2 separate regions of the Homo sapiens genome follow, and region 1 is linked to region 2. The links come from fine-mapping of genetic effects on gene expression. Tissue or cell type: whole blood. Region 2 holds a variant in brackets; the other region holds the start of a gene. All regions are shown on one strand. Distances are between the middles of the regions.

Region 1 (4,098 bases), 85 kb before region 2:
TCTTAATCTCTTTGGACCATAAATTTGGCCTTTAAACTGTCAGATTTCTTTTCCTGTGGACTATCTTTTTTCCTCAACTAAACAGCATGCTTCTTGTTTTAGATCTCTCCCAGTTCCTACATAATAGATGCTTCAAGCATTTGGTTGACCGAAGTGATTGCATGAGCTTTCTCAGTCTTGAGGAGAGAATTGTGGCAAGGCTGCCACCTGTTTCCATGACAAAGTGTTAAAAGTGACTCAACCTAAAATCCAGTTGGGTTGCCCTTAGTAAGAGAGGGACTCTATTTACAGGGCCCGGTCACTTCCCACTTGACTCAGCCGAGCTTGCACAGGCCGTGCACACACTGGCTGCTCCTATCTTGGACTTGTGGAAAGAAAGAAGAACATGAGAAGTACAGGAATCTGTGGCTTTGGAACTTCACAGAGACCTTTCCCAGGGGCTACAATTAGAGAATTGTCCTTTGGATTCACCCTTTTTGCTAAAGAACTGCAGTGAAAGTTCTGGAAGATGTTTGCTCAAAGTGCTACCCCCATCCTCAAACCTTCCTAAGTGCTAAGTGGACATTGTACCACCCACTGGAAATGCAGCTCCCATTTTTGAAGCCTTACAGTGAGGTTGGGAAAACAAGACTCACACACTCCAAGTAAGTTCCAACATATCAGATGGTGAGACAGATGGCAAGTTCTACTAAAGCTCCAGAAAGGAAGGAGTTGCTTAGGACTTGGCTGGTCCAAGAAAGCTTTATAGAATCTGAAATGGACCTTGGATAAAGGGTACAAGTTGACCAACTAGAAAAGAAAATGTGTTGGAGGGTAGTGAATAAACTCGTTTTAGCTGGAGCAGGTTTCATGTGGTCACATAAAGTTGGAAAAGGTTCTGGAAGGCCCTGAATTCTGGATTTACAGTGTGTATCTTAATCAATAAGCATTGGAAGCCATTAAATATTTTTGAGCAGGTGTGTGACTACATACGGGATTTTTTTTTTTTTTTTTTTTTTTTTGAGACAAGGTCTTGCTCTGTCACCCAGGCTGGAGTGCAGTGGCATGATTGTGGCTCACTACAACCTTACACTCCTCCCACCTCAGCCTCCCGAGTAAGTTAGGACTACAGGTGTGTGTCACCATGCCTGGCTTTTTATGAAGACCATCTGGTGGTAGTGGACAGGATGCGATGGGAAGCTTGGAGTTGGGGAGGCTAATTAGGAAAAGTCCTGTAGAAACTATTGAATATCCAACTGAGGTGAGAACAGAGAGAAGGGAAACATAGTTCTCAATTCTGTGAGAACCTCTGTCTTGGAACAGTACTTGTGTGATATTCATTTGATTTTAAAATGTCCAGGAACACTTTGATCCTTCACTTTTCCCATAGTCTCCTGACCATTTTTCCCAGAAGAGATAATGGAAAAGAAAACTGCAGTATAACTTGCTGAGTGACCTGGGGCAGTTATTCTGCCCCTTGATACTTTATCTAATTTAAATCAGATAATAATGCTTTACCTGCCTGAAGGCAGAGGACTGGAATACTGATTTTTTTTTTTTTGAGACAGGGTCTTGCTGTGTTGCCCAGGCTGGAGTGCACTGACGCAATCACGGCTCACTGCAGCCTTGACCTCCAGAGATCAAGAGATCCTCTTGCCTCAGCCTCTCAAAGTGCTGGGACGACAGCCGTGAGCCACTGTGCCTGGCTTATCTTGCTGATCTTTTCAACTCTAAGAGTGAATACTTTTCTTTTCTTTTTAAAATTCTTTTTCGGAACCCTCAAACACCTACTCTCTTCAAACAGCCATTCCAGCCCAGTCTGGGGAAAACTGCTTGCTGGGGTTCACCGTGGGGGCTGTACGACTTCCCCAGCGCCTCTCGGAGATGTGGTTCAGGCTGGGAAGAAAGGTCTTCAAATCTCAACTGGAAAACGAAGCTATGTCTGCGTTAAGCGTCCAGTGGCTCCCGTGATATTTCACGCCTACTGGTTTCGTCAAGCAGGGAGTCGGGTCGTTGCTGTTGGCGACGAAAGGCTCTGAGGCTAAAGCCTTGGGCGTCGCCCAAACCAGCCTCTACTTCGCTTCTGCCTAAAACCACACCGTTAGGCGCCTGGGTGGTGACTCGGTTTCCCTCGGTCACCCAGAGTCCGCATCATCACTCGCCCCCTCCTCATCCCACCCGTTCCCAGTCGGGGGAGGCACCAGGCACCAGTTCTCTGGCCCCACCTCTCGCTCCCCTAGGGAAGCCGAATGGCCTCTTCGCGTCCCTGGCTTCTCGGGGGCGGAGCCCACCTGTGCCCGGGGCGGGGGCGGGGGCGGGGCCGGGGGCGGGCCAGGTTCCGCGAGCAGGAGAGCCCAGAGCCCGGAGCCCGGTCCGGGGCTGGCGGGGGCGCGGGCGGAGGCAGGCGGGCGGGCGCCGGGGAAGCCTCCTTCTGGGCAGCGAGTGAGGGCGGGCGCGCAGGGAGGGAGGGCGGCAGCGAGCCTGCGACGGGAGAGGCGTGGGGAGGAGAGCCCGGCGCGGAACACACGCGCGGAGGAGGAGCCGGGCTCGGCTCCCGGAGAGACCTGCTGGGCGCCCGCGCAGCCCGGAGACCCCTCGCGCCCGGAGCATGAGCCCGAGCCCCGCCGGAGAGCGGCCGGGAGAGACGGCCTCGGCGCAGCCCTGAGACGCTGGGCCGGGACGCGGGGCGCCCTGGGCGCGGGGCCCGGCCGGGGGGCGGCGGCTCGGGGGGTTGGAGCCCGCGCTGGCGGCGGCCGCCTCGGCGCAGCGCCATGGGGAGCCCCCGGGCCGCGCGGCCCCCGCTGCTCCTGCGCCCGGTGAAGCTGCTGCGGAGGCGCTTCCGGCTGCTGCTGGCGCTCGCCGTGGTGTCTGTGGGGCTCTGGACTCTGTATCTGGAACTGGTGGCGTCGGCCCAGGTCGGCGGGAACCCCCTGAACCGGAGTAAGTAGCACCCAGGGGAGGCGAAGGGCGCGGGGGTGGGCGGCGGCGGCGGCTCCTGCGTTGGGGGGACCCGCCTCTCATCCCATCCTCAGACCCGATTTCCCACCCATTTCTCCCTCAGGTGCCCGGCGTCGCCCCGCGCGTACTCGGGGAGAGCTGCGGGCGGGGGAAGCCGCGGGGCCGAGCGCAGAATTCCCGAGCCCGGGCCTGCCCGCCGGCCACGTGGGTCCGGGGCACCCTGGGGGCTCCTCGCGTCTCCCCTCGGAGAGCGACCCGGAGAGAGGCTCCCCGCCCGTCCCGCCGAGACGCTGGCGGAGACCGGGCCCCTCCAGCCGCTCCGGGCTTGCGGTTCCCGGGGAGGAGGTCCGTGGGGTCCACGCGCGAGCTAGGGATTCGGGTGCGGGATGCCCTCGGCCGTCCACACCCAGGCGCGCGCTCCAGTCCGCGCAGCCCAAACTTTGCCCACCGCCTTCTGTTTGGCTCACTCCGTTTCCTCTCCTGCTGCATCTTCTAGGGGGGTTCTTTTTTACCATACCTCGGAGAGTCCCGTCTCTTCCCCGCTTCCCATACGTCGCTCCTCTCCCAGCCTCCGTCCTCGGCTCTTTGAATCTCCCACCTCCTCGCTGCGCCCTCTTTCTCCTGTTCGGGCCGCCCCTTCTGCCACTTTTCTGAACCCTGAGCAAATCTACCAAACTCCCCAGTTTAAGGAGATGATGGACAGCACAGTGGACCGGGCAGCAGGTAGATTCCTACTTCTGTTTTTAACTTAGCCAAAGCCACTTAATATTTCCGTGCCTCAGTTTCCTCCTAGGAAAACAGGAGAGCGTGGTCTCTTTGCCTTTTTACATCAATAGGTATGGCTGTGCGAGGTGGTTTTCAACGTACTGTGGATGGGCCTAACAAAGTAAAACTGACAGTGACAGGGGCCGTAAAAGATCCTGTAATAGTTGGGAAAAGAAATGGAGAAACTCCCGTTACTACCAGGTGCCCAACGCAAGCCCGGGGAGCCGAGGTTCAAAGTTCTGGCACGTGGCCTCCCATGCCTTCACTTTCCTCCCGCTTTGGGGAAACTCGGACAGAGTGGCTGAGCAAGCAGCTGAGAAGATACTCTGACTCTGACCTGTCGTCGTGTCAGCTTCTCTACCCAGAGTTGGGTGTGGTGCTGTGCCTTCTCTTGTG
Region 2 (4,098 bases):
TCCTCCTAGTTCCCTGTCCTCTCAGCTATTCTGTCACAACCATTGTCCCCGTTGCCTGGGGAATGAACACCAGCCCCCTTCCTGCATGGGAGGTCCAGGGAGAGTATGTGTGTGTGTGTGCATGGCCAGAGCAGACCTTGTCCCCAAGGCCAGGCCATGGGGTGAACATCAGCACCAGGTTCCTGAAAGAAGTGCTGGGTGCTGGGCTGGGAATGGGATAGAGTGGGCCGGACCCGCACAGTGAGAGGAGCACCGGCCCCTTTCTGCCCAGCCTCCCGGAGCTGAGGAGCTGGGATGGGCATGGGGTGGTCACGCTCCCGGAGCTGAGGAGCTGGGGCAGGCATGGGGTGCTCATCCTCCTGGAGCTGAGGAGCTGGGGCGGGCATGGGGTGCTCATCTTCCCGGAGCTGAGGAGCTGGGGCGGGCATGGGGTGCTCATCTTCCTGGAGCTGAGGAGCTGGGACGGGCATGGGGTGCTCATCCTCCTGGAACTGAGGAGCTGGGACGGGCATGGGGTGCTCATCCTCCTGGAACTGAGGAGCTGGGATGGGCATGGGGTGCTCATCCTCCTGGAGCTGAGGAGCTGGGGCGGGCATGGGGTGCTCATCTTCCCGGAGCTGAGGAGCTGGGGCGGGCATGGGGTGCTCATCTTCCTGGAGCTGAGGAGCTGGGACGGGCATGGGGTGCTCATCCTCCTGGAACTGAGGAGCTGGGATGGGCATGGGGTGCTCATCCTCCCAGAGCTGAGGAGCTGGGGCAGGCATGGGGTGCTCATCTTCCCGGAGCTGAGGAGCTGGGATGGGCATGGGGTGCTCATCTTCCCGGAGCTGAGGAGCTGGGGCGGGCATGGGGTGCTCATCTTCCTGGAGCTGAGGAGCTGGGACGGGCATGGGGTGCTCATCCTCCTGGAGCTGAGGATCTGGGGCGGGTGTGGGATGCTCATCCTCCTGGAGCTGAGGAGCTGGGGCGGGCATGGGGTGCTCATCTTCCCGGAGCTGAGGAGCTGGGGCGGGCATGGGGTGCTCATCTTCCCAGAGCTGAGGAGCTGGGGCGGGCATGGGGTGCTCATCTTCCTGGAGCTGAGGAGCTGGGACGGGCATGGGGTGCTCATCCTCCTGGAGCTGAGGATCTGGGGCGGGTGTGGGATGCTCATCCTCCTGGAGCTGAGGCTCTGGGGAGGGCATGGGGTGCTCATCCTCCTGGAGCTGAGGGTCTGGGGCGGGCATGGGATGCTCATCCCCCTGGAGCTGAGGATCTGGGGCGGGCATGGGGTGCTCACGCTCACTCACCACTGGCGTCTCCGCCCTGCAGTTCCGGGGCCGTGCCAACCTGCATGTGTTTGAAGACTGGTGTGGCAGCTCTATCCAGCAGCTCAGGAGGAACCTGCATTTCCCACTGTACCCCCATGTGAGTGCCTGAGGGCTGCCTTGCCCACCTCCCTCCACACCTGCCTCCTCTGCCCACTTCTGTCTCTCATCTTTCCTTACATCTTTTCTGGTCCATATTTTCTCCTTTATCTCTTGAGCTCTCTTTTTGTCTGCCCATAATAGTTCCCTTGTTTCCTTCCTAGGGATCCTTTCAATTTCATCCCCTGCATCATTTCAGTTTCAGGCTCTCTGGCTCACAATATAGTGTACCCAGGGCCACCATGTACAGTTGTGCTGGTTGTGCACTGTACAAGGTCTCCTGGACAAAGAGGCAAATGGGAACTGAAATTGAGCCTGCACTCCACTCACAAAGCCACAGCCCTGGTCCCTCCTGTCATAGTCCCCTCCTGGTCTTCCCGCCAA[T/C]CCTGGCGGGAAGTTTCCTTTTCCCTCTTCTGGGTAACTGTTTCCTTCCCCTTTCTTGGCATAGATTCGCACAACCCTGAGGAAGCTTGCTGTGTCCCCCAAATGGACCAACTATGGCCTCCGCATCTTTGGCTACCTGCACCCCTTTACTGATGGTGAGGCCAGCCCCAAAACCCCATCCTTCTTCCTGCTCTAGAGTTCTGCATCGGACCCAAAGAACATAAGATAAGGTTATAGGTAGACTGGACTAACTTCCTGTTAGTCCACCCTCAGGAAGAGAGGGGAAATTGAGTCATATTGCGGTCTTGTCCAACTCCCACAGGCTGCTGCTTTGCTCCCTGGTTTGCAGCCTGGAACCAGCTCATCTCTCCATATAAGTCTTCTCCATCTTCACACTGTCTCCCAGGATGTAGAAACCCCCACTTTACAGAGAGGGAAGCCACAGCATCAAGCACTGAAGGGAATTTAATCGCTAAGACACTCACAAAAGCCTCCAGCTTTTATGCTGATGCCCTCCTTGCCCTCATCTGGAAACTCTCCCCGCTGCCCAGGGAAAATCCAGTTTGCCATTGCTGCAGATGACAACGCGGAGTTCTGGCTGAGCCTCGATGACCAGGTCTCAGGCCTCCAGCTGCTGGCCAGTGTGGGCAAGGTAAGGCCAGCTCAACCCCGGTCCCTCCCATCTGCTCCTGGAGCCTGTTCATTGAGTCCTCCAGCAGCTGCTCATTACTGTTAGCATCTCTGGTGTGACAGCGGGGAAGAAGGGGTGGAAAAGAAGTCTCCTCCCTCACCCCTACCCCTCTACAAAGGGATAAACTGAGGATGGGGAGGAGTGAGGAGTGGGGAGGAGCGAGGTGTGGGGAGGAGCGAGGTGTGGGGAGGAGTGAGGAATGGGGAGGAGCGAGGTGTGGGGAGGAGCGAGGAGTGGGGAGGAGTGAGGAGTGGGGAGGTGAGAGGAGTGGGGAGGTAAGAGGAATGGGGAGGAGCGAGGAGTGGGGAGGAGCGAGGAGTGGGGAGGTGAGGAGTGGGGAGGAGCGAGGAGTGGGGAGGTGAGAGGAGTGGGGAGGTGCGAGGAGTGGGGAGGTGAGGAGTGGGGAGGTGCGAGGAGTGGGGAGGTGAGAGGAGTGGGGAGGTGCGAGGAGTGGGGAGGTGAGAGGAGTGGGGAGATGAGAGGAGTGGGGAGGTGAGAGGAGTGGGGAAGAGTGAGGAATGGGGAGGAGTGAGGAGTAGGGAGGAGTGAAGAGTGGGGAGGAGTTGGGAGTTAGGGTGGGGAGTTGTGGGAAAGTGGGGAGTGAGAAGGAGGGAAAAGCGGGAAGGAGTCGGGAAGAGGGAAGAGGAGGGGGGAATGAGAAAGAGGGAGCAGTGAGAAGTGGGCAGGGGGTGTGAGAGGAGGGAGGGGGGTGTGGGAGGAGGGGAGTGGGGAGGTGGGGAGAGGAGTAAGGAGTGGGGAGGTGGGAGGAGTGGGGCAGAGAGTGCGGACAGGGAGGAGTGGGGAGCGAGTCTGAGGCTGGGGAAGGACCACAGCGATTCGGCTTGGGACACCCAGCGCAGCATCTCTGGGGCCCTCTGGCCTTGGCCGGGTGCTGACTCGCGCTGCAGGTCATCCGGCTGCTCCGGGCTCCTGGCAAGGCGGGCTGCCTCCTGCGTGGGCAACGCTCACTCCTTCACTCCCTTCTGTTTTCTCTCCTACCTCTCTCACCTTCATTCCGCCCGTCTTCCTCCCTTTTTCTCTCACTTCTTGGTTCTCCTTCCTGGTCTCGCACTCACCGCCTCGCGTGCTTCCTGTTTTCTCTGTTCCTCCCTCCTCTTCTCTCTTCCACACCTCTAGACTGGAAAGGAGTGGACCGCCCCGGGAGAGTTTGGGAAATTTCGGAGCCAAATTTCCAAGCCGGTGAGGTGAGTGAGGGTCAGGACAGGCGCTGTGGGCGCCTCGGTGCCTCGGTGGAGCCCGGCTGCGCCCCTGTCCGCCAGCCCAGCTGCCGACTCCAGAGCTTCCGTGTGTCCGGCACCCACACGCTCCCGGCAACCGGGTCTTTGGCTCAGAAGCCGCGAGCCCATCCGTCCTCGTTTCACAGATGGGGAAACTGAGGCCCAGAAGGCCGTGACTTATTGCAGGTCACGCAGCTCTTTAGTGACACGCGGGACTGGAAAATAGGTCTCCTTCCTCCCAGTCCTTGCCCTCCCCCGTTTCTCCACACCCACAACAGCCTGGACCCCGGACCGAGGTCCCCCTCGGTCGTCTGGGGACACGAGTCCCTTTCCCTTGCGGGGAGGGAGCGTAGCGCGGCCTCAGAGCGCCCCCTGGTGG

The links. PIP is the estimated chance that this variant, and not a neighbour inherited with it, causes the effect.
Region 1: it holds the start of B4GALNT3, and the variant in region 2 is fine-mapped to the expression of B4GALNT3 in whole blood (TOPMed, PIP above 0.99). The same link has a PIP of 0.9 or more in neutrophils.

Annotation. Positions count from the first base shown.
Region 1 is chr12:457,627-461,724 of GRCh38, forward strand. B4GALNT3 (beta-1,4-N-acetyl-galactosaminyltransferase 3) reads left to right here and starts at 2,313. Exons shown (of 20, transcript NM_173593.4): 1 at 2,313-2,919. The coding sequence starts at 2,751. RefSeq lists an enhancer at 1,481-2,464.
Region 2 is chr12:543,028-547,125 of GRCh38, forward strand. B4GALNT3 (beta-1,4-N-acetyl-galactosaminyltransferase 3) reads left to right here. Exons shown (of 20, transcript NM_173593.4): 4 at 1,312-1,407; 5 at 1,855-1,945; 6 at 2,342-2,442; 7 at 3,619-3,686. Among named protein-coding and RNA genes, the nearest start is that of B4GALNT3, 85 kb to the left of the region's middle. RefSeq lists enhancers at 1-357, 3,256-3,790. The variant T/C (reference allele first, on the strand shown) is at 1,791.